3 separate regions of the Homo sapiens genome follow, and regions 1 and 3 are each reported to be linked to region 2. Evidence: microRNA targets listed by miRTarBase, many of them from high-throughput screens and not tested one by one. Region 2 holds a microRNA gene; each other region holds the end of a gene's coding sequence.
Evidence for each region. The annotated mature microRNA hsa-miR-7151-3p reads CUACAGGCUGGAAUGGGCUCA and lies in region 2 at 3,824-3,844, shown strand. An mRNA with a match to its seed (bases 2 to 7 or 8) in the 3' UTR can be bound and repressed. Matches are read on the target gene's strand: a 7mer-m8 pairs with bases 2 to 8, a 7mer-A1 pairs with bases 2 to 7 and ends in A, and an 8mer does both.

Region 1: miRTarBase lists SLC12A6 as a target of hsa-miR-7151-3p. Seed matches in the 3' UTR shown: 7mer-A1 at 2,454-2,460, 7mer-m8 at 2,897-2,903, 7mer-A1 at 3,017-3,023, 8mer at 3,091-3,098 and 7mer-m8 at 3,226-3,232.
Region 3: the mRNA of KIAA1549 is a reported target of hsa-miR-7151-3p. Seed matches in the 3' UTR shown: 8mer at 6,766-6,773 and 7mer-m8 at 6,902-6,908.

Annotation. Positions count from the first base shown.
Region 1 is chr15:34,227,893-34,234,959 of GRCh38, reverse strand. It overlaps SLC12A6 (solute carrier family 12 member 6), which reads left to right. Exons shown (of 26, transcript NM_001365088.1): 26 at 988-5,176. The coding sequence ends at 1,079. It overlaps EMC4 (ER membrane protein complex subunit 4), which reads right to left. Exons shown (of 5, transcript NM_016454.4): 4 at 6,371-6,531; 5 at 4,804-5,207. The coding sequence ends at 5,172. Among named protein-coding and RNA genes, the nearest start is that of EMC4, 6.4 kb to the right of the region's middle.
Region 2 is chr10:67,400,195-67,407,194 of GRCh38, reverse strand. It overlaps MIR7151 (microRNA 7151), which reads left to right and starts at 3,785; the gene lies at 3,785-3,844. The region is part of intron 5 of CTNNA3 (catenin alpha 3); the gene reads left to right.
Region 3 is chr7:138,830,399-138,841,193 of GRCh38, reverse strand. It overlaps KIAA1549, which reads left to right. Exons shown (of 20, transcript NM_001164665.2): 19 at 916-1,061; 20 at 3,034-9,813. The coding sequence ends at 3,288. Among named protein-coding and RNA genes, the nearest start is that of ATP6V0A4, 38 kb to the right of the region's middle. RefSeq lists a silencer at 8,936-9,230 and an enhancer at 10,311-10,795.

The DNA of each region.
Region 1 (7,067 bases), not on the chromosome of region 2:
TGCAACATGACATCTAATATTCAGTGTATAAAACCCTTCCTGACAATCCTACAGACAGCATACCCACATCCTTTCGCCTTTTTAGGTTCTACCCGCTTTGCAAAGCCTTTCTTTTGGATAGAGTTAGGGGAGAAGCTGAGATAGAACCTCCTTTAACTGAGGGGAAAAAAGAGATAGGGATTCTTCCTCATACCTTCATCCCAGGACTCCTGGGATACGGGAAACCCTTCAGCATTGACACATAAATTAGCTTATTCCCACCAGTACCATTAAGAAAGAAGAGGTTTAGGCCAGGTGTGGTGGCTCATGCCTGTAATCCCAGCACTTTGGGAGGCTAAGGCAGGTGGATCACCTGAGGTCAGGAGTTCGAGACCAGCCTGGCCAACATGGTGAAACCCCGTCTCCACTAAAAATAGAAAAGTTAGCTGGGTGTGGTAGCAGGTGCCTGTAATCCCAGCTACTCGGGAGGCTGAGGCAGGAGAATCACTTGAACCAGGAGGTGGAGGTTGCAGTGAGCCAAGATCGCACCATTGCACTCCAGCCTGGGCAACAAGAGGAAATTCTGTCTCAAAAAAAAAAGAAAGAAAAGAAAAAGGTTTAAAAAGAAAAAGACAAACCGAACTGGCAGAAAAATCTGACTTGAGCAGCTTCACTTAGAAATTACTTGGGTTCTCTCTAGGAATCTTGTTAGCTGCCCTATTGTGGCTTTTCTTCTTCTTTCATCATTTTTATCTTATTTAGAGTAACACTTCTAGGTTTTCCCATTTTTTAAATACACAAATGGGAGTCTGGTATTATGTATGCAAAAGGACTGGATCTCTGGTTACTTCACAGGGTTAAATTCAATCCAAAGTTCAGACTTTTCTGAATATATAATAATTAAGCAGCTAATTTTGTAGCTCTATGATCAGATAACCTCAGATTATGATGATGCCAGGTTTTAAGTTTGTGCTCTTCTTTTGCCTGTCTCCTTGACAAGTTTTGAAGACATGGAGTTCCTAGAGGTGCTTACCGAGGGACTAGAGCGAGTCCTACTTGTCCGGGGTGGTGGCAGTGAAGTGATCACCATTTATTCATAACCTACTCTGAATGACCGTGCTTGACCTGTTTTCTTAAAAGGCCTACGTCCTCCATGGAAGTGCCAGCTCATTACTACCACTCCCACTCAACTAGAAGCCTGTGTTCTGTACACATCATACTGAACTCTTGATGAGCTGAGCCTCAAGTACCTGTGTAAAAGAGCTCCCATCTGATCTGCAGTCATTACAGAAAAAGCAAATATTCCCTCAACATCAGAACAATGCTCAAGTCTTTCAAGCCACGTCTGAGCAGTCAAAGGCAAATTAGAATTAACAAGCTGAGCCAATAAATGAATTGGTAAAAGGGATGCTAGAAATTCAACTGAAGAAAAAAAGCAAGTCAAGTACGTATTCAGCATTAAAGATGAATCTCAGAAGTCATGGTTCAATGTTGACACTGTGAGGATAACAACTAGAGACAGCTTCATCTTACTAAAGAATTTATGGTCAAGTATATTTGGACCTATTATCCTCGGCAAGCCAAGATGCAAACATTTTTTAGCTATATTTCTTTAGTATACCCACTGCTGTAATTTTATATTAGGATACTAACTTGAAACATGGCTGCAGCCTCTACTTCTTCAAAAACATCCCCCCAAAATACCAGATTTAAATATCCAAATACTGTGTCAGTGTATACTTCAACTGTTTTGTTTCTCTTAACTCAAAACCCATTCTGTCATTGTAACACAGGCAGTGTTACCATGGAAATTGTTTTTGGTAAGGTAAAAATTATTTCTTTCAGGTTCCTTTCAAATGGCCGAACTAAGAGAACTCCAAAAGGAAGCTATTAACATTTACTGAAATAGTCTGTGGTTCTCTATACAACATGGACAAAACATACAAGCTGTTGTCTAAGAAATGCAGGTCATGGTGCACATTAATCAACAGGTTCTTCTCCCCCCGCCCCCACCCCCGCGCCTTTTTTTATGCCCTCTTATTAAGCACAGGTCAAAAAATCTTAAGGAACAAATACTAGGAAAACTGGCTAAACATCCTTCCCTGAAAGCACTGGACCATCTTTTAAAGGGCACATCTAGCAATGGAATTGGAAGTTCTAGAGCCACACTCTTTCTTTAGTGCCAACGTTACTGAGCGGCTACTCTCCTTACCTACTTTACTAAAATGGCATACAGATTGGCATTGACCTGTTGAAGAAATTTTACCACTAAGAAATCTTTTGCCTCATCTACAAAGCCATAGTTAAGACTTGAGGCATTCAACTTAATGCCAAGTATAAGCATTTCCCCCTTTTTCTTTCAATTTTATTCTTCATTCTGACTACAGAAACTTGGCCCTGAACTACGAGATTAGCCAAGCCAACAGTCTTCTAATTTGTTTTCAGAAACTTCAGGCCGGGTGCCGTGGCTCACACCTGTAATCCCAGCACTTTGGGAGGCCAAGGCAGGTGAATCACTTGAGGTCAGGAGTTCGAGACCATCCTGGCCAACATGGTGAAAACCTGTCTATACTAAAAATACAAAAATTAGCTGGGCATGGTGGTGCATGCCTGTGATCCCAGCAACACGGAAGGCTAAGGCAGGAGGATCATTTGAACCCAGGAGGCGGAGGTTGCAGTGAGCCAGGATTGCACCTCTGCACTCCAGCCTGGGTAACAGAGTGATATGTTTCAAAAAGAAAGTTCAGTGTGCCAAGGAAATACTTGTGTAAGCTCAGCTTTTTATTTACTAATATACTGATCAAACATCTGGCTTACAAGCATAGGGAAACTACTTATGTGGCTGGCTGAGCAGTAATTTCAAGTATGTGAAATCTTCATTTCTTTTACAGAATAGTTATTTAGAGAAACTTTTCTTGCCTGTATTCATGGCTGTTTTTGAATTTCAATTTATTAGTCATAAATAGTGCCACTCTTCTTTGATTACTAAATAGGACATGGAGCAAGCTGACCTAGGTGTCACAAATTATTCATTTGACCTGTAAGGACAGAGAAAACCCTTCAATATAGCTTAAGAAATTGAGTAATTTTGGGCCGGGTGCAGTGACTCACGCCTGTAATCCCAGCACTTTGGGAGGCCGAGGCAGGCGGATCACGAGGTCAGGAGATTTGAGACCATCCTGGCTAACACGGTGAAACCCTGTCTCTACAAAAATACAAAAAAATTAGTCGGGCATGGTGGCGGGCGCCTGTAGTCCCAGCTACTTGGGAGGCTGAGGCGGGAGAATGGCGTGAACCCGGGAGGTGGAACTTGCAGTGAACCGAGATTGCACCACTGCACTCCAGCCTGGGCGACAGAGGGAGACTCCATCTCAAAAAAAAAAAAAAAGAAAGAAAGAAAGAAATTGAGTAATTTTGATTTGTTCCCTTTGCTTGCTTCAACCTCCAGGCCCACTGAGGATGGCAAAGCGGATAGGATCTTAAGTCTTTTTTTCTGTTACTTCCTACAGATGGTAGAAGCATTATTTACAACTCCCACTGCAACACTCCATTGCTTAGTTGAGTTTAACAGTAGTGAGTCATGTCCTGCAGGATCCAGTATCTTTTTTTTTTTTTTCCGAGACGTAGTTTCGCTCTTGTTGCCCAGGCTGGAGTGAAATGGCACAATCTTGGCTCACCGCAACCTCTGCCTCCTGGGTTCAAGCGATTCTCCTGCCTCAGCCTCCCGAGTAGCTGGAATTACAAGCATGTGCCACCACACCCAGCTAATTTTGTATTTTCAGTAGAGACGGGGTTTCTCTACTGAAACTGATGTTGGTCAGGCTGGTCTCGAACTCCCAACCTCAGGTGATCCGCCCGCCTTGGCCTCCCAAAGTGCTGGGATTACAGGCGTGAGCCACTGTGCCCAACCAGGATCCAGTATCTTAAAGGCCCATACTGTAAAGGTCAGCCTGCCTAGGAATTCTGCCACATTTACACACACCCCTGGCCAAAGTAATATTTTTTTTTTCCATGTAGAACAAATTATGGGCAGAAAGTAAAGTTAGTTTTAGAAGTGCTGTTTGTGGTTGGAGAATTGTAAAAATCTTTTAAAGGGATAAGGGAATTAGTGGCTTTTAATATAACCACTGCTTCAGCCCGAAACACAAAATCACTGTTACATGGAAAACTGGTTATTAGGCCAGATTTATATTCATGTCTGTCTAGAGTATTTCATGTGTGTATGTGTTGCTTACGTTGTCTGTCTCCAAAGTCTCTCATCTCTTTTAATCACTGCAAATAAAGCAATACTGAAAACTTGAGAGAATGCACCTTAGGGGAAGGGGCTATTTCAAGACAGAAAACAAAGGAAATACCTGCCTTTTGAATAAGATCCCGCTTTTGAGTCTTACCTATGACTTTACCAGGGTAGATTAGAAATACACATCCTCCTGCTGACCCTCTGCCTTCAATAGCTATCTATCTTAAAAGCTGAAGTTTGAACTGCAGCATCTGCTTGACAGGTGCCAGGTTCCTTCGGCAGGGGGACGATCACTCTATATATCTTCCGTTGCCTCAGATTCCTGTGGCCCAAGGATCCCACCAATCCTCGTTCCCCCTAAACATGCTAACAAAAATCCCTTATCGTGGGTATTAAAATAATAACAGTTACACTGTATGCATATTTATGTGCTCCTTTTGTCTGGTTTTTCTTTTCATCATGTATAAGCTGAATTCAGCATTAGTTTCTCACATCTTCCCCCAGGTATCCCCAACAGAATTTTTATGTCCCAGCTTGTATTAAATAGAAGTGAAATATTAAGGAAAATAAGGAACTTGTGCAACTTTTTTTATGCATTGTTCTCAACCATTTAATTTATTGAAAGGAGATGCTGCAACAGTTCTTGATTTAGCAGCAGTTATTCTCTTGTTTACATAGTTATGTTTTTTTGTTGTTGTTTTGCTCTGTACTGGAAACAAAAATAAAGTTTTCTACATTATTTTCAGCCTTGGGTTATGGTATAGTTTCTTTGTGTTTGTCGTAATATGCACATTGTCCTTCTAGGACCTGTCACCCCACCATGGAGAAAAGAGTCTTTTGGTTCTTTTTAACATAAGTGATTAGTTTAAGAGTATGCTGAGGAGCCACTGGGCTTAAAGAAGGATGTAAATAAGACCCAAATACATAGGGACCAGGCGCTGCTTTCTCATGTTCACAAAAGCAGTCCTCCACCACTGAACTCCATTCTCTGAAAGAAGAAAGAAAGAATAAATAGGTGAGTGGCAAATGAGTGTTAAAATAACTTCCTGAATCAATTACTTAATACTTTAACCACAAGCTCTATTTTGCCTATCCTTAAAAAAGAACTTCCAGGCCAGGCGCAGTAGCTAATCTTAGCTAAACACTTTGGGAGGCCAAGGCAGGCAGATCGCTTGAGCCCAGGAGTTCAAGACCAGCCTGGGCAACATGGCAAAACCCTGTCTCTACAAGAAATACAAAAATTAGCGAGCCATTGGGGTGCACACCTGTAGTCCCAGCTACTTGAGAGGCTGAGTGCCTGAGCCCGGAGGTTGAGGCTGCAGTGAGCCATGATCACATGACTGCACTCCAGCCTGGGTGACAGAGCAAGACCCTGTTTCAAAAATAATAACTTGGCCAGGCATGGTGGCTCACACCTGTAATCCCAGCACTTTGGGAGGCCGAGGTGGGTGGATCACCTGAGGTCAGGAGCTGAAGACCAGCCTGGCCAACATGGTGAAACCCTGTCTCTACTAAAAATACAAAAATTAGCCAGGTGCAGTGGCAGTTGCCTGTAATTCCAGCTACTAGGGAGGCTCAGGCACAAGAATCGCTTGAACCTGGGGGGCGGAGGTTGCAGTGAGCCAAGATCACACCACTGTACTCCAGCCTGGGCGACAGAGTGAGACTCTGTCTCAAAATAAATAAATTAATTAATTAATTAAAAATAATAACTTAAAAACTCCTAATGGCTCTTATTTTTTAAGAAACCCTAGGCCAGGCGCAGTGGCTCACGCCTGTAATCCTAGCACTTTGGGAGGCAGAGGTGGGCAGGTCACTTGAGGTCAGGAGTTCAAAACCAGCCTGGCCAACATGGTGAAACCCCATCTCTACTAAAAGATACAAAAAAATTAGCTGGGCATGGTGGCAGGTGCCTGTAATCCCAGCTACTTGGAAGGCTGAGGCAGAATAATTGCTTGAACCCAGGAGGCGGAGGTTGCCGAGATCATGCCACTGCACTCCAGCCTGGGCGACAGAGCAATACTCCGTCTCAAAAAAAAAAAAAAAAAAAAAAAGAAACTCAAATACCAACTCCAATTTCCTACCATCAAGTAGGTCAGCTATTCACTGTATACTACAACTACCCAAAATTCAGCTTTTCTTTTGCCTTACCTCAGGGGGCTCAATGAAGGCTAACCAATCCGATGCATGTGTAGGTAACAGTCCCATGGACTGGCACTTGTAAACAGCCAATGCCAAACCCATCAGGTTCCCAATGAGATAGACCAAACCCTGAAGAAACTTCTGGCTTGAACTTTCTAACATCTTGAAAGCTGTTGCGGTAACAGAAGTTGTCAAACCAAAAGAACTCTTTCCCCCAATACGAATCAAGCCAACTGTATATTAAATTCATATAGACAGACCCATAGTAAGACAGCAAATAGGACCATTAAAGGCAAACAGAAAACCATGGTAAGCACTACACTCCCCTCCATGCCACCACCATTACCCCACTCCCCTATATACCTGTTAGCCAAAAACTGTCCCTAAGAATTTACCTTTAATTCTTCCTTTTTTTTGAGATGGAGTCTCGTTCTGTCACCCAGGCTGGAGTGCAGTGGCACGATCTCGGCTCACTGCAACCTCTGCCTCCCAGGTTCAAGTGATTCTCCTGTCTCAGCCTCCCAAGCAGCTGGGATTACAGGCGTGTGCCACCACGCCCAGCTAATTTTTGCATTTTTAGTAGAGACAAGGTTTCACCATGTTGGCCAGGCTGGTCTCGAACTCCTGCCCTCAGATGATCCACCCAGCTTGGCGCCTCCCAAAGTGCTGGGATTACAGGCGTGAGCCACCATGCCCGGCCTGCCTT
Region 2 (7,000 bases):
CTAGATTCAGTTTGCCAGTATTTTGTTGAGGATTTTTGGTATCAATGTTTATCAAGGATATTGGCCCGAAGTTTTCTTTTTTGTTATATCTCTGCCAGGTGTTAGTATCAGGATGATGCTGGCCTCATAGAATGGGTTATGGGGGAGTCCCTGCTTTTCAATTGTTTGGAATAGTTTCAATAGGAATGGTACCAGCTCTTCTTTGTACCTCTGGTAGAGTTAAGCGGTGAATCCATCTGGTTATGGGCTTTTTTTGGTTGATAGGCTATTCATTACTGATTTGATTTCAGAGCTTGTTGTTGATCTGTTCAGGGACTCAGTTTCTTTCTGGTTCAGTCTTGGGAGGGTGTATGTGTCCAGGGATTTGTCCATTTCTTCTAGATTTTCAATTTGTGTGCATAGAGGTGTTCATAACATTCTCTCATGGTCGTTTTTATTTCTGTGGGTCAGTGGTAATATCCTCCATGTCATTTCTGATTGTGTTTATTTGAATTTTCTCTCTTTTCTTTTTTATTAGTCTAGTTAGCAGTCTATTTTATTAACTTTTTTTCAGAAAATTAGCTTCTGGATTTTTGATCTTTTGAAAGGTTTTTCATGTTTCTATCTCCTTTAGTTTAGCTCTGCTTTTGGTTATTTATTGTCTTCAGCTAGCTTTGTTATTTGTTCACTCTTGGTTTCCTAGTTCTTTTAGTTGTGATGTTAGGTTGTTAATTTCAGATCTTTTTAACATTTTGATGTGGGAATTTAGTGCTGTAAGTTTCCCTCTTAACACTGCATTAACTGGGTTCCAGAGATTTTGGTATGTTGTATTTTTGTTCTCATTAATTTCAAGATTTCTGCCTTAATTTTATTATTTATCCAACAGTTGTTCAGGAACAGGTTATTCAATTTCCATGTAATTTTGTGGGGTATTAATTTGTTTTCATGCTGCTATGATGAAATACCCCAGGCTGGGTAATTTGTAGAGAAAAGAGGTTTAATTGACTCACAGTTCCACATGGCTGGGGAGGCCTCAGGAAACTTATAGTCATGGCAGAAGGGGAAGCAAGCATGTTCTTTTTCACAAGGTGGCAGGAGAGAGAAGTACCAGCAGGGGAAATGTCAGATTCTTATAAAACCATCAGCTCTCCTGAGAACTCACTCACTATTATGAGAACAGCATGGAGGAAACTGCCCCCATGTTCTGATTACTTCCCACCAGGTTCCTCCCATGAGAGGTGGAGATTTTGGGAAGTACAATTCAAGAGGAGATTTTGGTGGGAGCACAGCCAAACCATATTATGTGGGTTTGAATGCATTTCTTAATCTTGATTTCTAATTTGATTGCACTGTGGTCTGAGAGATTGTTCATTATGATTTCAGTTCTTTTACATTTGCTGAGGAGTGTTTTACTTCTGATTATGTGACCAATTTTAGAGTAAGTGATGTGTGGCAATGAGAAGAATGTATATTCTGTTGTTCTGGGGTGTAGAGTTCTATAGATATCTGTCAGTTCCACTTGATCCAGAGTTGAGTTCAGGTCCTGAATATTTTTGTTAATTTTCTGTCTTGATGATAGAGATATTAGAAAATATTGTCAATGGGGTTTTAAAGTCTCCCACTATTATTGTGTGGGAGTCTAAGTCTCTTTGAAGGTCTCTAAGAACTTGCTTTATGAATCTGGGTGTTCCTGTTTTGGGTGCACATATATTTAGGACAGTTAGCTATTCTTGTTGAATTGAACCCTTTATCATTATGTAATACTCTTCTTTGTCTTTTTTGATATTTTTTGGTTTAAAGTCTTTTTTTGTTAGATGCTAGGATTGCAATCCCTGCTTTTTTCTGTTTTCTATTTGGTTGGTAAATTTTCCTCCATCCCTTTATTTTTAGCCTGTGTATGTTTTTGCGTGTGAGATGGGTCTCTTGAAGACAGCTTACCAGTGGGTCTTGGTTCTTTATCCAGCTTTTTACTCTGTGTCTTTTAATTGGAGCATTTAAGGTTAATACTGTTATGTATGGATTTGATCCTGTGATCATGATGCTAGCTGGTTATTTTGCAGACTTGTTTATGTAGTTGCTTTATAATGTCACTGGTCTGTATACTTCAGTGTATTTTTGTAGAGGCTGGCAACAGTTTTCCCTTTTTATATTTAGTGCTTCCTTCAGGAGCTTTTATAAAGCAGGTCTGGTGGTAACAAATTCCCTCAGAATTTGCTTGTCTGAAAAGGATCTTATTTCTTCTCTTATGAAGCTTAGTTTGGCTAGATATGTAATTCTGCATTGGAATTTCTTTTCTTTAAAAATGTTGAATATTGTCCCCCAATCTCTTCTGGCTTGCATGGTTTCTGCTGAGAGGTCCACTGTTAGTCCAATGGGCTTCCCTTTGTAGGTGGCCTCGCCTTTCTTTCCAGTGGCCTTTGACATTTTTTATTTCATTTTGACCTTGGAGGATCTGATGATTACATGTTTTGGGGACGATCTTCTTGTGGAGTAAGTATCTTACTGGGGTTCTCTGCATTTTCTGAATTTGAATGTTGGCTTCTGTAGGTAGGTCAGGGAAGTTCTCCTGGATGATATCCTGAATTATGTTATCCAAAATGGTCCCATTCTCCTCATCTTTTTCAGGTACCCCAATCAGTCATAGATTCAGTCTCTTTACATAATCCCATATTTCTTGGAGGTTTTGTTTATTCCTTTTCATTGTTTTTCTCTATTTTTGTCTGCCTGTGTTATTTCAGAATGACATTCTTCAAGCTCTGAGATTCTTTCTTCTGCTTGGCCTATTCTGCTATTAATACTTGTGATTGCATCGTGAAGTTCTTGTTGTGTTTTTTTCAGCTCTATCAGGTTGGTTATATTCCTCTCTATACTGGCTATTTTGGCTGTCAGCTCCTGCATTGTTTTATCATGATTCTTAGCTTCCTTGCATTGAGTTGCAAAGTGCTCCTTTAGCTCAGTGAAGTTCATTTTTTAGATCCACATTTGGAATCCTATTTCTATCATCTCAGCCATCTCAGCCTCAGTCCAGTTCTAAATCCCTGCTGGAGAGGTGTTGTGGTCATTTAGAGGAAAGGGAGCACACTGGATTTTTGAGTTTTCTGTGTTTTTGTGCTGATTCTTTCTCATCTTTGTTGGCTTATCTACCTTTGATCTTTGAGGTTGTTGACCTTTGGATGGGTTTTTGTTGTTGTTGTTCTTGTTGTTTTGCTCGTTTTTTCTTTGAACAGTCTGACCACTTTTCTGTAGGGCTGCTATGATTTGCTGGGCGGCTGCTTCAGACCCTAGTCACCTCAGTTTTTTCAGTACCTGTAGGTATTACCGGTGAAGGCTGCAAAACAGCAAAGATGGCAGCCTGCCCCTTCCTCTCAGAGCTCTGTCCCAGAGAAGTACTGACCTGTTGCCAGCCTGAATGCACCCATAGGATGTGGCTGGAAACCCTGTTTTGGAGGTCTCACCTAGTCAGGAGGAATGGGATCAGGGACCTCCTTAAAGAAGCAGCCTTCCTGCGTTTTTGTAGAGCAGCTGTGCTGTGTTTGGCTTCCCTTCACCCCCATATAGTTTTGCACTTTCCAAGGCCCACAGGTTGGACTGGGTGAGATGCCCAAACAGCACAGGTGGCAGCCCACCTGGCCCCCTGGGCACTCCATCACAGGGAGAAATTAGAACTTTGTCAGCCATAGAACATGGGTGAGGGTGGTTGGAAGCACTGGTTGGGAGGACCTGCCCAGCAAGGAGGAATGGATTGGGGTTCTATTTAAAGAAGCAGTCTGGCCACACCTTGACAAAACAGCCATGCGTTGCTGGGGATCCATCTCTGCCTGTATTGGCTTGGATTCTGCAAAGCCTACAGGCTGGAATGGGCTCAAAGCAACATTGGCAGCTCATCCCTCCCCACTGGGCACTCCAGCCAAGGGAGAGATCAGAGTTCTTTCCTAGAATATGGGCAGGGGTGGCTGGAGGTCCCTATTGGGAAGTCCTGCCCAGTGGGGTGGAATGGATTGGGGTCCCACTTAAAGAAGTAGTCTGGCCACATTTTCATAGAGCAGCTGTGCTGTGCTGTGCTGGGGGTCCCTTACTTGTCCAGACTGTTTGGACTCTCCAAAGCCCACAGACTTGAACAGCTGAGTTGTCCAAATAACAAAGGTGACAGCCCACCCCTTTCCCTGGCAGCTCCATTCCATCTCAGGCAGGCACTACCCTGTTGCTGGTGGCTGGCTGAAGTTCCAAGCCAGTGGGTCTTATTTTGTGAGGTGCCTTGGAAATGGGGCCCACAGATGGACGCTGTTCAGCTCCCTGGATTCGGCCCCCTTCCTAGGGGTATGTATGGACCTCCCGCCTTGACTGAGTTGTAGTCACCTTTGCCAGGGATCCTGTGGCTGGGGTATGTAAATCTCCTGGGTCTCTGTGCATACCTGAGTGGCTGCCCTGCTGAGACTCCACACAGCTCTGTGTATCTGACCCAAGGTCCTGGTGGAGTGGGTTTATGAGGGGATCTCCTGATCTGAGGGTTGCAAAGATCCATGGGAGAAATGTGGTTTCCCAGGGTGGCACATTCACTTACCACTTCCTTGGCTGGGGTGGGGGTTCCCTTGGCTTTGCGTCACTTCCAGGTGGGCTATCATCCTGCCCTACTTTTCTCTGTTTTCTGTGGATTGGTTATTTCCCTGATCAGTCCCAGTGCGAAAACCTGGATATTTCAGTTGAAGGTGCTGTATTTACTCACTGCTTTTCTTCCTCTTTATGAGTGCCATGCACCATAGCTACTTCTAATTGGAGGTCTCGGCCCACTCTCTGCTCTTCATCTTTCTCAATTCTCTTTTCTGTATTTTTGTCTGACTGTGTTAATTGAAAGAATTGCTCTTTGAGCTCTCAGATTCTTTCCTCAGCTTGGTCTATTCTGCTGTTAATACTTCCAATTATATTATGTAATTTTTGTAGTGAATTTTTCAGCTCAAGAAATTAAGTTTTTGTCTCTCTTTAAGTGAGAATTTCACCTTTCAGCCCTTGAATCATTTTACTGGATTGCTTGGCTTCCTTGGATTGAGTTTCAACTTTCTTCTTGATCTCAATGAGCTTCTTTGCCATCCATATTTTGAATTCTATGTCTGTCATTTCAGATAATTCAGACTGGTTAGGAAACATTTCTGGGGAGCTAGTGGGCTCATTTGGAGGTAAGGGGGCAGTGTGGCTTTTTGAATTGCCAGAGTTCTTATGCTGATTCTTTCTCATCTGGGAGGGATGGTATTCTTTTAATTGTGGTGTAAATTGAGTGTACTTTGTTGGCTTTGTTTCTGAAAGTTTTTAGAGAACTAAGGCTCTGTATGGTGTCTTCGTTGCAGAATTCTTACTCTTGGTTTTGCAAGGGCAGGATTAGTAAAGTGATTTTGGTGTTGTAGTTTGGGCTACAATCTAGTAGATGGTCCTTGAGAGCAATGGGCAGTAGATAGGCTTCTACTCAGCCTTGTGGTTCCTTTGTCTATGTTAACATTTGCAGCTGTGTTCTGCAGTGCAAGGGGGAAATAGATGACCCCCTCATCAGGTCTGCTTGGGGGAGCCACATCCAATCACTAGCACTGTACCTTCGATTTTGTTGTTGTTTTTATTAGGTCTTTGGGGCCACGGGGCTCCCTTAGGGAGAGGTCTGGTATGGAAATAACCCATATCCTTACTGGACCAATCCCCTTCCCCAGGTACCTTTCCAGTTTGGAAATCAGCCTTAGCATTCAGGCACCCCACATTGGGTGCCTAACTTCCTTCTTCTTCAGTCTCTGGGACTGCATCTTTTCTCAATCCATGTTTGGTAGTTTCTCTCTGAAGATTTGTTCAAATTATGTTGGTGTATATTAAATTGGGTCTCTTTCTGTGGGAGTGGCAATTTCTGACTGTATCTAGTCCCAATCTATATTTTAAAAGTATGGCAAGTTTTGAATTTTCAGTATATGCTGAAACTGGGTGGTTTTTAAAGAGCAGAAATTTATTTCTCATAGTTCTGGAGGCTCAGGAGTTCAAGATCAAGGCACTGACAGGTGTGATCTTGTGAGGGCTGCTTTTGCTTCCAAGCTGATGCTCTGTTGCTGTCCTAATGTGGTGGGAGGTGGAAGGGGAAAAGGGTCACTTTTATGATGTCATTTATTTTAATGTGATCACTAGTCATCAGTATTTTTTGTTTTGTTTTTGTTTACTTTTTGTATTTGCCTAGGAATAGCCTATATGAAAATTTTATATCTGAAGTATACACAACACTTAGTCCAGGATCATATTATTAGATAAGCACTCACATTTGAGGATGACAGCAAAGTTTTTTAATTGATAGAGTTTCTTAATTTAGTTGTAAATTTCTCTGTAATTTAATTCTAATATTCTTTTCTAAGTGGTTTTAAATTTAGCCTTATGGTTCAGTGTATTAGAAGCAAAGTCCAATAAAATTACATCTTTATAATATCCTGTAAGACATTAAATTACATATTATTAATTCCACTTTTGAAAAGTAATTAGGATCTAATAACTGCCAATAGCAATTGCATACATTCACTAAAATTTACTTGTTTGTGTATATAATTTGGGGGTTATTTTCAAAAATTATGTGGTTTGCAGTGGATTATTTATTAGCACTTAAAATTTTCCACATGAAAAATAAGCCTTTGATTACCAAACAAAGGGATATGATCTCAATATCATCTTCTTCCTAAAGTATTTATTCCAGAGTGAATATCAGGATGCCCATTTGTAGGGAGACAAAATCTATCTGAAATTATTTTCCCGTGAATTGCTCATTTTTATTGTTCTCATAATCAACACAAGATGTTAAAATAAATGTATTTGTAAGCTTATTTCTTATTTCATAATACATCTGTAACATTTATTTAAAAGTAAATCTATTCAAAATATTGGAGAATCATTTGTTATACTTTGTCACAGTACTTTGACATGTTTATGGGTGATAGATTGTTAGATGTGGGAACAATATAGTTACAAATGACAAGCACTCACAACAGAGTAAAATTCTTATTGGCATCTTGAA
Region 3 (10,795 bases), not on the chromosome of region 2:
AAGAGCCAGGCTTCAGCTTCATGGTGGCTCCCAAACCTGTCACCCCTTTCTTAATAAATGAGCTGCTCCTTGTTGGTAACTGCCACAGAGATGAATGGAAGTACCTTCTGTGGTACCGTTTATCCCCAGTCCTAATGTCTAGCCACGAAAATAAGGGCATCACTGTCAGCCTCTGAATTAAAAGAAAATCAGAGTCCAGGAACCAAGAAGCTTATGGTCTGTTGCTCTTAGGAAATGCCATTTCTGGAGATAGAACTGGTACCAAGTCATGATCCCTTGTCCTTAAGGAGTGCAGTGATCAGAGCTGACAGTGTCTTCTGACAGGGTGTTTCCAAAACAGTTGCATCAGGGGTGGGATTGTGGTTCCACTGGGGCTGTTGTGGTGCTCACAGGGAGGAGGGGTCACCCTCACACAGTGTTTCAGGAGAGGAGCCCGTGGGCTTTCTGATGGGCTGGTAGAAGTGCGCAGGAAAGAGGAGTGGCGCATAGGGTGTAGGTTTTTAGATCTGAGCAAGTAGGGCTGCACAGCCCTGGGTGGAAATGGGGAGGGCGAAATGGGGGACAGACTTAGGCTTAGGGATGAATGTCACGGGGTCAAGAATTCTGTTTCAGACTTTTTTTGCAATGGGATTTTCTTCTTTTATTTGTTTATTTTTATTGCTTGGTCCACGGTGCTTCGTGGTACATTTTCCTACCGCTTCGTGGTGCATTTCCTTACCTATGGGACCCTCAGGAAATGCTGACAGTATGGCAGTTGAGGTGAGATTTCTGGAGATAGAACTGGTACCAAGTCCTGATCCCTTGTCATTAAGGAGTGTAGTGGTCAGAGTTGACAGTGTCTTCCTCGGCAGCCATCCTCAGCAGCCATACTCTCCTATAAATGTTGACCAGGCCACTCCACCATGTTCCTTCCAGGCTCCCAGATCCAGCACCTGACACAGGTGGGGATTGCCAGCAGAATTGGAGCTCAGCCAGTGGAAATCCCGCCAAGCAGAGGCAGCCAGTATGGGGGGCCAGGCTGGCCTTCGTACGGGGAGGACGAAGCGGGGCGAAGAGAGGCCGTGAGTATCTCCTGTTTGGGTCATCATTTAAAATTTAGACATAGGCCAGGTGCGGTGGCTCACACCTGTAATCCCAGCACTTTGGGAGGCCGAGGCGGGCGGATCACGAAGTCAGGAGTTTGAGACCAGCCTGGCCAATGTAGTGAAATCCCGTCTCTACTAAAAATACAAAAAAAAATTAGCCAGGCGTGGTGACGGGTGCTGGTAGTCCCAGCTACTTGGGAGGCTGAGGCAAGAGAATCACTTGAACCCGGGAGATGGAGGTTGCACTAAGCCGAGATCGTGCCACTGCACTCCAGCCTGGGTGACAGAGTGAGACTGTCTCAAAAAAAAAAAAAAAAAAAAAAAAAAAAAGACATAATCCCTCAATTTAGCAGCTTCTGCTTTGGGGGGGGTCCCTTTTTAAAACCTACATTTAAAAAAGTTTTAATCTCTCTCACATTTTCCTGCCTCCTGGTGTTTTGGCTTACAGTTTTTAGCATCTAGCTTTTAGGAAGTATATAATTTTTCTTGAGGCAGAGTTCAAGCTTTCAGTAGTAAATTCGAATCTATAGGTGACAACTCTGGAGTTCATGTTTGGCGGGATTGCTGTATAAATATTCATGCTCTTCCACAGCATTTGTGTTTCACTGTGGGTTTGTTAATGTCATTTGTATTATGACCATGTGTAGGTAATTTTGTAATAAGCACACAGTTGGGGACATTTTAAGGCACAGGTTTTCTTTTTGAGACTTCTGTTCACTCAATATGAGCATCGGTAATTCCTACAAGTGCTTTCATTTGCTTTTCTCAAGAACTGTATATCTTGGGGGGATAAATTCATGAAGTTTGAAAATAACCACCCAGAATATTACTTTTTGTTTTCTCCTTATCGTTATGCTACAGTGTCTGTTGCATTTCTGTGCCTTCCCAACAGACACACTCAATTCCTTTCATGGCTGGATGCTCTTACCTAGTAAAAAGACATTAACTTTAGAATAAGGTGCTTCCCTAAAAGAGACATTGTTATACTTAGAGTCTCAGGTATCTGCTTTAAGTTTGCTGCCATTTCTCTTTTTTTGCCTTCATTTTGCCCAGCTTAGCTTCATGAGGTGTTTGGGGTTGGTTTTGGTGTTTTGTTTTTTTGAAAAAATGGAGGCAAGGTCTCACTATGTTGGCCAGGCTGGTCTTGAACTCCTGGCCTCAAGCAATCCTCTCTCCTTGGCCTCCCAAAGGATTGGGGTTACAAGTATGAGACACCGTGCCTGGCATGGTGTGTTAAGGTTTTCCTGTCACATCCACTTTGGAACACTGCTCGGTCACTATTTGGAGAAGTGAAACGTAGAAAGAACCTAGAGCTGGAATGTCATGTTTGGCTCACAAATAACTTAGCCCTAACATGGTTTTTAGTACGCAGATTTAAGTACTCTTACATATAAATGCAAAGAGACATTTATTTCCACTGGGAGAGAAATAAACATGAAAAAAAAATCTGAAAAGTGTAATAATTCTTGTGAAACTCCTGCCAAATTAATCTCTATGCGGCAAATATCAGCAAAACTATTTTATGCTTTAGTGCAGATAAGTTTTTAAAGACAAGGCTCTACAGAGCCCTCAGTAGACACACACTCACGCAGAGACAGGAGACAGACAGCAGCTAGATAAAGCAGAAGATGGTTGCGTAGGCTCCAGTCCAGGGCAGAGGCACCTGTTCCCCTTGTCAGCCTGGCATGGATCCGCTTAACCTCCTTCAGCTCTCAGATATCACCCGACCTTTCACATCATGGGGCACTCCAGCCTCCCTCCCTTCTGTTCTCCCCAGCCCCCTGGTGTCTTCACGCCTCACCTGCAGCATAGGCAGCAGGGCCCTGTTAGAGGGCTGAGTTGGTGGATGGACGTGGGCAGTCCTGGGAACCTTCCTAAAGCCAGTTTGCATTTGATGTTTCGGCTTATTCTTCGTAGGAAGTACAGTGACGTTTGCCATGTTTTTCAGACACACATGCTCGGACATCAAGAGTATTCTTCTTCACCGCTATTTCAGGTGCCAAGGACTTCAGGCAGGGAGCCCTCAGCTCCTTCCGGGAACCTCCCCCACCGGGGACTGCAGGGCCCTGGGCTGGGTTACCCCACCAGCTCCACGGAAGACCTCCAGCCTGGCCACTCCTCGGCCTCTCTCATCAAAGCAATCCGCGAGGAGCTCCTCCGGCTCTCCCAGAAACAGAGCACCGTGCAGAACTTCCACAGCTGATCGGCCTCGCCTCGCAGATTTGCCAAGTATCCGCTTCCTGTGGAAGCAAGACCAAAAGGAAATCAACTGAGTGGGTGTTTGGAAGAGGAAGGAGCAACTCTCGGGCAGCCTGCCCAAGGGAGGGAGCAAGTTGCAATTTAGAAGATGCCATACGTCGTGTGACAGCTCATGAGCCTTTCACTGGGCTGGCAATTGTCTGAACACTTGGGTTCAGTTGAAATATATGTATTTTGGCCAAAAGCCAGCAGCACTTCACAAAAACAAAACACAAACCTAAGCTAACAAAATGACTGCATTCGTCTCTTTTTTAAAGGTAGAGATTAAACTGTATAGACAGCATAGGGATGAAAGGAACCAAGCGTTTCTGTGGGATTGAGACTGGTACGTGTACGATGAACCTGCTGCTTTGTTTTCTGAGAAGAGGTTTGAAGACATTTTATTAACAGCTTAATTTTTCTCTTTTACTCCATAGGAACTTATTTTAATAGTAACATTAACAACAAGAATACTAAGACTGTTTGGGAATTTTAAAAAGCTACTAGTGAGAAACCAAATGATAGGTTGTAGAGCCTGATGACTCCAAACAAAGCCATCACCCGCATTCTTCCTCCTTCTTCTGGTGCTACAGCTCCAAGGGCCCTTCACCTTCATGTCTGAAATGGAACTTTGGCTTTTTCAGTGGAAGAATATGTTGAAGGTTTCATTTTGTTCTAGAAAAAAAAAATCCCTCCCAAAGTGGGGCAAAAAGCTTTATATTTATTTGATTATCCAAAATACAGATCAAAGTTTAGATCTACATTCTTCATTGTATTTGCTGTTTCTTAATTGGGCACACACAACTCCTGGTCATGTCCCAGTTCAGCACCGATCGCTAAGGCCGATCCTGTAGAATGCGGCTTTCAAGAGGTCCTAACTGATCCTTTCTTCCACTTTGCTGTTGATTTGTTCACAAATTATGTCTGAATGAGAAATCTTCTGTAAGCAGAAGTTATTTAATAATTCCCAGCACCACGAAATTGTTATACATACATCCCTACCAGTCACATTCCCTGTGTTCAGAGCCTGGAAATGAAATTGAGTTCAGTTCAGCCTCTCTGTAATGAATCAAGAAATGTAAAAGAGCTTTGAGACCCCAAGGGAAAGGAGAGAGTTGCTTCTCATTTCTGATTTTATTGTGCTGTTACTCTGTCGAGTGGCTATTAAAATTGTCTTATGCTCTTTGGGCTAAGAGGGGATCATCTCGCTTAAGATGTACTCCTGATGTAAACATTTCCCCCACTTTCCAAATAATGGTAAAGAAAACAGTGGCAAGGGCTGTTCTGTTTTCTGGTACCTGAGTGAAACTCAGAAGAAAAGCAGGCTTAGCTAAGAGATTTTCACTATTAACCTGTTTTTATTAGATCAGCGAAGACAGTCATGCATCGCTTAATGATGGGGATGCATTCTGAGAAATGTGTCATTAGGCTGTTTTGTTGCTGTGCCAACATCCTAGATTGTACTTACACAACCTACATGGTATAGCCTACTACACACCTGGGCTGTGTGGCATGGCCTATTCCTCTTAGGCTACAAACCTGTACAGCATGTTACTGTACTGAACACAATGGTAAGTATTTGTGTATCTAAACATAGCTAAACATAGAAAAGGTATGGTAAAAATACAATTTTATAATCTTATGGGACTACCATCAATATGTAGACCGTCATTGACCAAAACATCCTGATGTGTGCATGACTGTACTTTTCATTAAATAACAGATAAGGGGCTATAGAATTTGGGGCTCTGACTGATCAAAACCTGTGTATCTGTGTCAAGTTTTAAGACCCCTGAAACAGCTAAAACAGGTTTCCAAAGTGTAATCACTGGATTTCAAAACCATGTTTTAGCCCTTCATTAATGAAGCCTGTTGTACAGATTTAGAGTCTTACAATATGAGGGAAGTTGGTTCTGGGAAGGTAAGATGTAGCCAGTTTTCATCTGGGCACCTCTGAAAGAGAAGGAGTGCAGGAGAGTAAGTCTCTCAAGGACGTTCAACAAAGGACCAGCAGCATCTTATCAGGCGATCCTCAGAGGCTCCAAGGAGCATTGGAGAGAATGCCCCTTTCTGGGCTTGATGTCTTGGTTTTGGTTTAATACCAAATTTCTCTTGGTCTTGGTTTAATACCCGACTCCTCCCAAATTGAACGATTATCTTTGTATGTCACTCAAAAATACCAGGTTTCCTGAATATGTTATTAAGAATTTCAGATATCCAAGCAGAATTTTATTATGGACACCTTGTAATGAATTCAAATCGTGTGACAGCAAACGGGATAAATGGCCCCTTCTCACCCAGTTCCGCTCAGGGCCATACAGGCTTGCACATAGAGTGTGCTAAAAATGGTAACCTCCTTTGAGCATTGCAGAAAGAGGGTTCTGTTTCAAATTGGGCTGACCGTAAAAGCAATTTTGATGTCTTTCAAACTACCATAAAGGGATTTTAACTGTATTTTTATTCTTAGAAACAATACACCTTTAAACAGATGTCAAGACCAAAGATGATGTATAATAAACAGCCGGTGGTTATGGTGTGGTGTGAGCAGGCCCCCGGATCACCAGCCCTCTGCTGGTGGTCATAAAGCACACACAGTTTGTACTTGCTTCCTCTCGACGCCTGCCACAACAGTTTTGCCAGTCACCAAACTCAGAAAAAACTAGCTGTGTGAGCAGCACCGTACCCTAGCGGTCTTCAGACATTAAGTTCACGTCATCCACTGAAAGGAAGGGTCCTTGCGTTGACAGCGTGTGGCTTTGGAGTCCGTTTATGGAAGCACTCTACAATGAACAGTTGAATTTTATGTCTATTCTTTTTTCCTATTTTAAAAGTTCTAGTGGTAACACAAACTGTAAATTTGAGTCAGAATGTTTGGAGAAATGTTGTTTTTTTTTTTTTCAGAGACTACTTTGTCACTCACTGACCATGTCTGGTTCCTTCTCTGAACTTCATTCTCCCCATAAGCCAAACAAGAACAGACCTCCCCCGCCACCTCCCAGGCACCGTAGTTGTGAGAATCAGATGTGATCATGTGTGCAGATGTCCTGTGAGGAGGGAGCATAAAGCACTGTGAAAATGTAGCATGCTGTCTATGTGGACGCCCTAGGATGAGTGATGTGAAACGCTGCACTACTGCGGTGAATGGGTTCACACATGGGTAATGAGCAAAACCGAAAGCTCGGTGTGACTCAGTTTCCTCACTCCCATTTTGCTTTAATTTCACTTCCTTCACCAATTTTCCGATTGCATTTATTAAGCATCTTTCTGCTCCCGACTTTCTGGTGTCTCTGGCACCAAATAACCCAGCAGACATGAGCCTTGCCTTCTGAGATTTTAGAATCTAAGATAGCACGAGTGGGTATAGAAGATGGAAGATACCGATAAATAACATGGTTTAAGTGTCAATAAAATTCATTCGAAGAGATCAGGCGCGGTGGCTCACGCCTGTAATCCCAGCATTTTGGGAGGCTGAGGCAGGTGGATCACTTGAGATCAAGAGCTTAAAACCAGCCCAGGCAACATGGCAAAACCCCGTCTCTACAAAAAAATACAAAAACTAGCTGGGTGTGGTGGCGCATGCCTGTAGTCCCAGCTGAGGCACGATAATTGCTTGAACCCGGGGGGTGGAGGTTGCAGTGAGCTGAGATTGCACCACTGTACTCCAACCTGGGCGACAGAGCAAGACTGTGTCTCAAAAAGAAAAAAATTTGTTCAAAAGACATAAATGAATTAGGCACCCAGAAGAAGTTGCATGTTTGGAAATGCAATATCTTGGGGAGACGTCAACTTCTGAAGTGACTTTGAAGGCAGGGCAGCTACCCAGGCAAATGGCGTGGAAGGAAGAGCTGAGAGTGGGCCTGGGAAAGGCTGTAGGGAAGGAGTGAAGCTGTCACTGAAATGAACTTGATCTTGATCTGCTTTGATATGGGGACAGAATCCCCGACTGCACTATTGAGGGAGTTTCAGAAGAGAAGGAAGAGGTGCTGGAAGGATGCTTTTGCAGTCATGCAGCAAGGAAACGACCAGGGCTGTGAAGATCTACAGAGGAAGTACTCCAGTGTGGGGGAGGCAAGGGAAGAGGACGAAAATGATGAGAATGACACTGAGGTCATTGTTTAGAGCAGATCTCAAGCAGCCGTTTGGCCACGCCATATCCTTTGTGGAGCATAGTGGGTTATCTATCTGTCTGTCTGTCTATGTATCTGTCTATCTATCTATATATATATTCAGCTTCTTTACTGCTACCTACACATTTTTCTCCAAATTTTATTAATTTCATAGTGTTTTGATTTGGGTGGCAGATGACTTTTAAGCAGTGGGTGTTTGCCGGCCAGATCTTTCCTGGCATGCGGACTGTGAGGCAAAGCACGGGTGAAGGTAGGCGCTAAAGGCTTTGGGCTAAAGCCAGCACGCGGTTCTGTGCTATAGGAGTCTCCCGTTTCCCGTGGACAGGTTCAGCGTTCCTTCTTTCGCACAACTTTTTTCTAAGTGTTCCAGTGACCAAGCCAGTCATTCGGACACTGATTTGCAGTGCATTGGCAGTAATTCACAAATTAGTTGTTATATAAGTCTCTCTCATCCCTTTCACACTAGATTCTCAGACATGAATGAATTTGTCGTTTGGAAGGAAAGCTGGGTAACGTTTTGGGCACAGGGGAAGGAGGACTCCGGTCTTAACTCCCACGCTAACTTTAGCTCAAGTGGAGTTTTCACCGTGGTCATTTCTACCTCCGGAGCAAGGTGCCAGCGCCAGTACTAGAGCCTGCTTATCCACATTTGCCCTGGACAGGAGCAGGAGGAAGTCCACTTCTGTACCGGCAGACAGAGCATGTGAACACAAAACACATTTCTATGGCATAGTCAACTGAACTTCATTTTTACATTTAATCTAACATGTTAACACGTTCTAACAGGGTTTCTATGAGCAGCTGCTGTAACATACTCATCAACTATGATAGACTTAACACTTGTTACCTAATGAACAAGGAGGATGTGCATTTCGGGTTTCTTTTGATATTCGTGGAGGTGATTGTCAGTGTTTAAACAGGACTACTTTCTCCACTATGAAGATGACTTGGAAATCGCAACATCATGGTACATTGCTAAGTCCATGCTTGTGTGTGTGACAGTAGGCTTGATAATTTATCTTAAAACACAGCAGCATTGAAATTTAGGAAAAGAATATTAAATGCCTTTGGAAACATGAAACAAAGTTAGGAGCCAGTAAGAAAGTGACAGAAGCAATGAATGTCTTAATGCAGTATAGTTAAAATGGCTTCCCACAGGGTAGATAATTATCCAGGATCCTTCCTTTTCCTTCTTCCTCCAGGTTTTTCAGGGGTCACTTCACATTTCTAAAGAAAGAGTGAATAGGCTGGGCATGGTGGCTCAAGCCTCTAATCTCAACGCTTTGGGAGGCTGAGGCAGGAGGATCGCTTGAGGCCAGGAGTTTGAGACCACCTTGGGCAACATAACGAGACCCCGTCTCTACAAAAAAAATTTAAAAATTAGCTGAGCATGGTGGCATGTGCCAGTAGTCCCAGCTACTCGAAAGGCTAAGACTGGAGGATCGCTTGAGCCAATGAGTTGGAGGCTGCAGTGAGCTATAATCACGCCACTGCACTCCAGCCTGGGCTGCAGGGTGAGGTCCTGTCTCTGGAAAAAAAAAAAAAAAAAAAAGGAATAGGTAAAAGGGACAGAGGTGAAATTTTGAGTGACTTGAGTCTCTTGCAGTCCCTGATTACACAGAACCTTTCTGGGCTACTTGGAGCATCACGAATAGTCTTTCCTGTACTTACCAGATTTCAAGTATTCATAACTTGACTCCCTAAGTGTACAAGTTGGGAATAGTACAGGGCCAAGTTCAAGTCGCATATGCTGTACTGTTCCTCCTGCAAATGTGGGGAAAGAAGAGGGAGATACTAGAGGAACTGAGGCTCCACCCATTCATTCAGTTGCTCTAAGCACCAGAGGACTTGTTTCAGAAAAGGGGAGTGGGAACGCCCTCGACTTTGCCCTCCTCCGGAGCATCTCTGGGACGCAGGGAGTCTGGCTAGCGTTAATAGGAAAGGTTGCTCGGCAGAGCTGCCCTGGAGTACTGACTTGTCTCTCCCTCCTTTGTCAAGGTCCATGTTTTTCTGGCTCTTCCTGCACACTCATCCCTAGATTATGAGCGTTAATGTACGAAATGTGCAGAGCAAATTGAGGCCAACTGTGGCATCAATACTGCAACTTAAACTTGACAATCATGGTTTGCTGGTCCTCAAACAGGCACTGAAATCTCAGTATGGGTATACGATTTAATAATCGGCCCCTCCCTTCTATTTGTCGGTTTTATGTTTCTATCCTTCAATAGCTGCACTGTTTTCTAATGTGCTGTAGAGTTTTTGAAATAATTTATGCAAGTATTTGGTTTCCATGTTTACAATTTATACAGCTTTCCTAGCATTTTAAATGGAAATGTCAATAAATGCTATGAATTGGTGTCAAAGTGATATTTTCTGTTGATTTCCTTTGCAACATGATAGTTTTCTCGTTTGTAAAACATGAAACATTGGATGAGATGATCTTTCTGTTCTCTAATTTTGTGTCTCTGGTGAGAACACCCAGTACTTTTGTTACTGGTGGAGGGTGTCCAGGTTCTTGGCGTCTTGAACAAAGAGTTGGACAAAACACACAAAGCAAGGAAAGAATGAAGGAATTTATTGAAAATGAAAATACACTCCACAGTGTGGGAGCAGGCCTGAGCATAGGGGCTCAAGGGCCCGGTTACAGAATTTGTGGGGGTTTAAATACCCTCTAGGGGTTTCCATTGGTTACTTGGTGTACGCCCTATGTAAATGAAGAGGTTTAAGTAAAGTCACACAGTCATTTACTCGACGTACACCCTATGGAGAGGATGTTTCCTGTCATAGCTGAACTGTGGCTCGGCCTTATGTCCCCTACTCCAGACCCCATTTTCCTGCCTCACTTTCATTGTCCAAGAAATTAAGTTGAAGGTATTCTATTCAGTGTGTGGAATTTGCAGACTTGTTTTCACTCGTTTTTGCCTGTGCCAATCCTTTCTACTCAGTGTAGTTTGACTGCTACCCACTTAGCAAATGGATGAATCCACTAAGAGCAAATTCAGTTTGGAATTAAAAGATTAGTGCCTCACAATTTAGAAAGATGAGAAGACCAAAGTCCACACAGTCTTGAAAGGTAATAGGATAACCCTGGAGTTGTTTACACAACCCAAGAAAACAAGATCCCCTTGAAACTTAGAAAAGGGGATGGGCGCTGTTTCTCACGCCTTAATTCCAGCACTTTGGGAGGCCGAGGTGGGTGGATCACTTGAGGCCAGGAGTTCAAGACCAGCCTGGCCAACATGGCAAAACCCCATCTCTAATAAAAATACCAAAAAAAAATCAGCCAGGCATGGTGGCGGGCGCCTGTAATCCCAGCTACTCGGGAGGCTGAGGCAGGAGAATTGC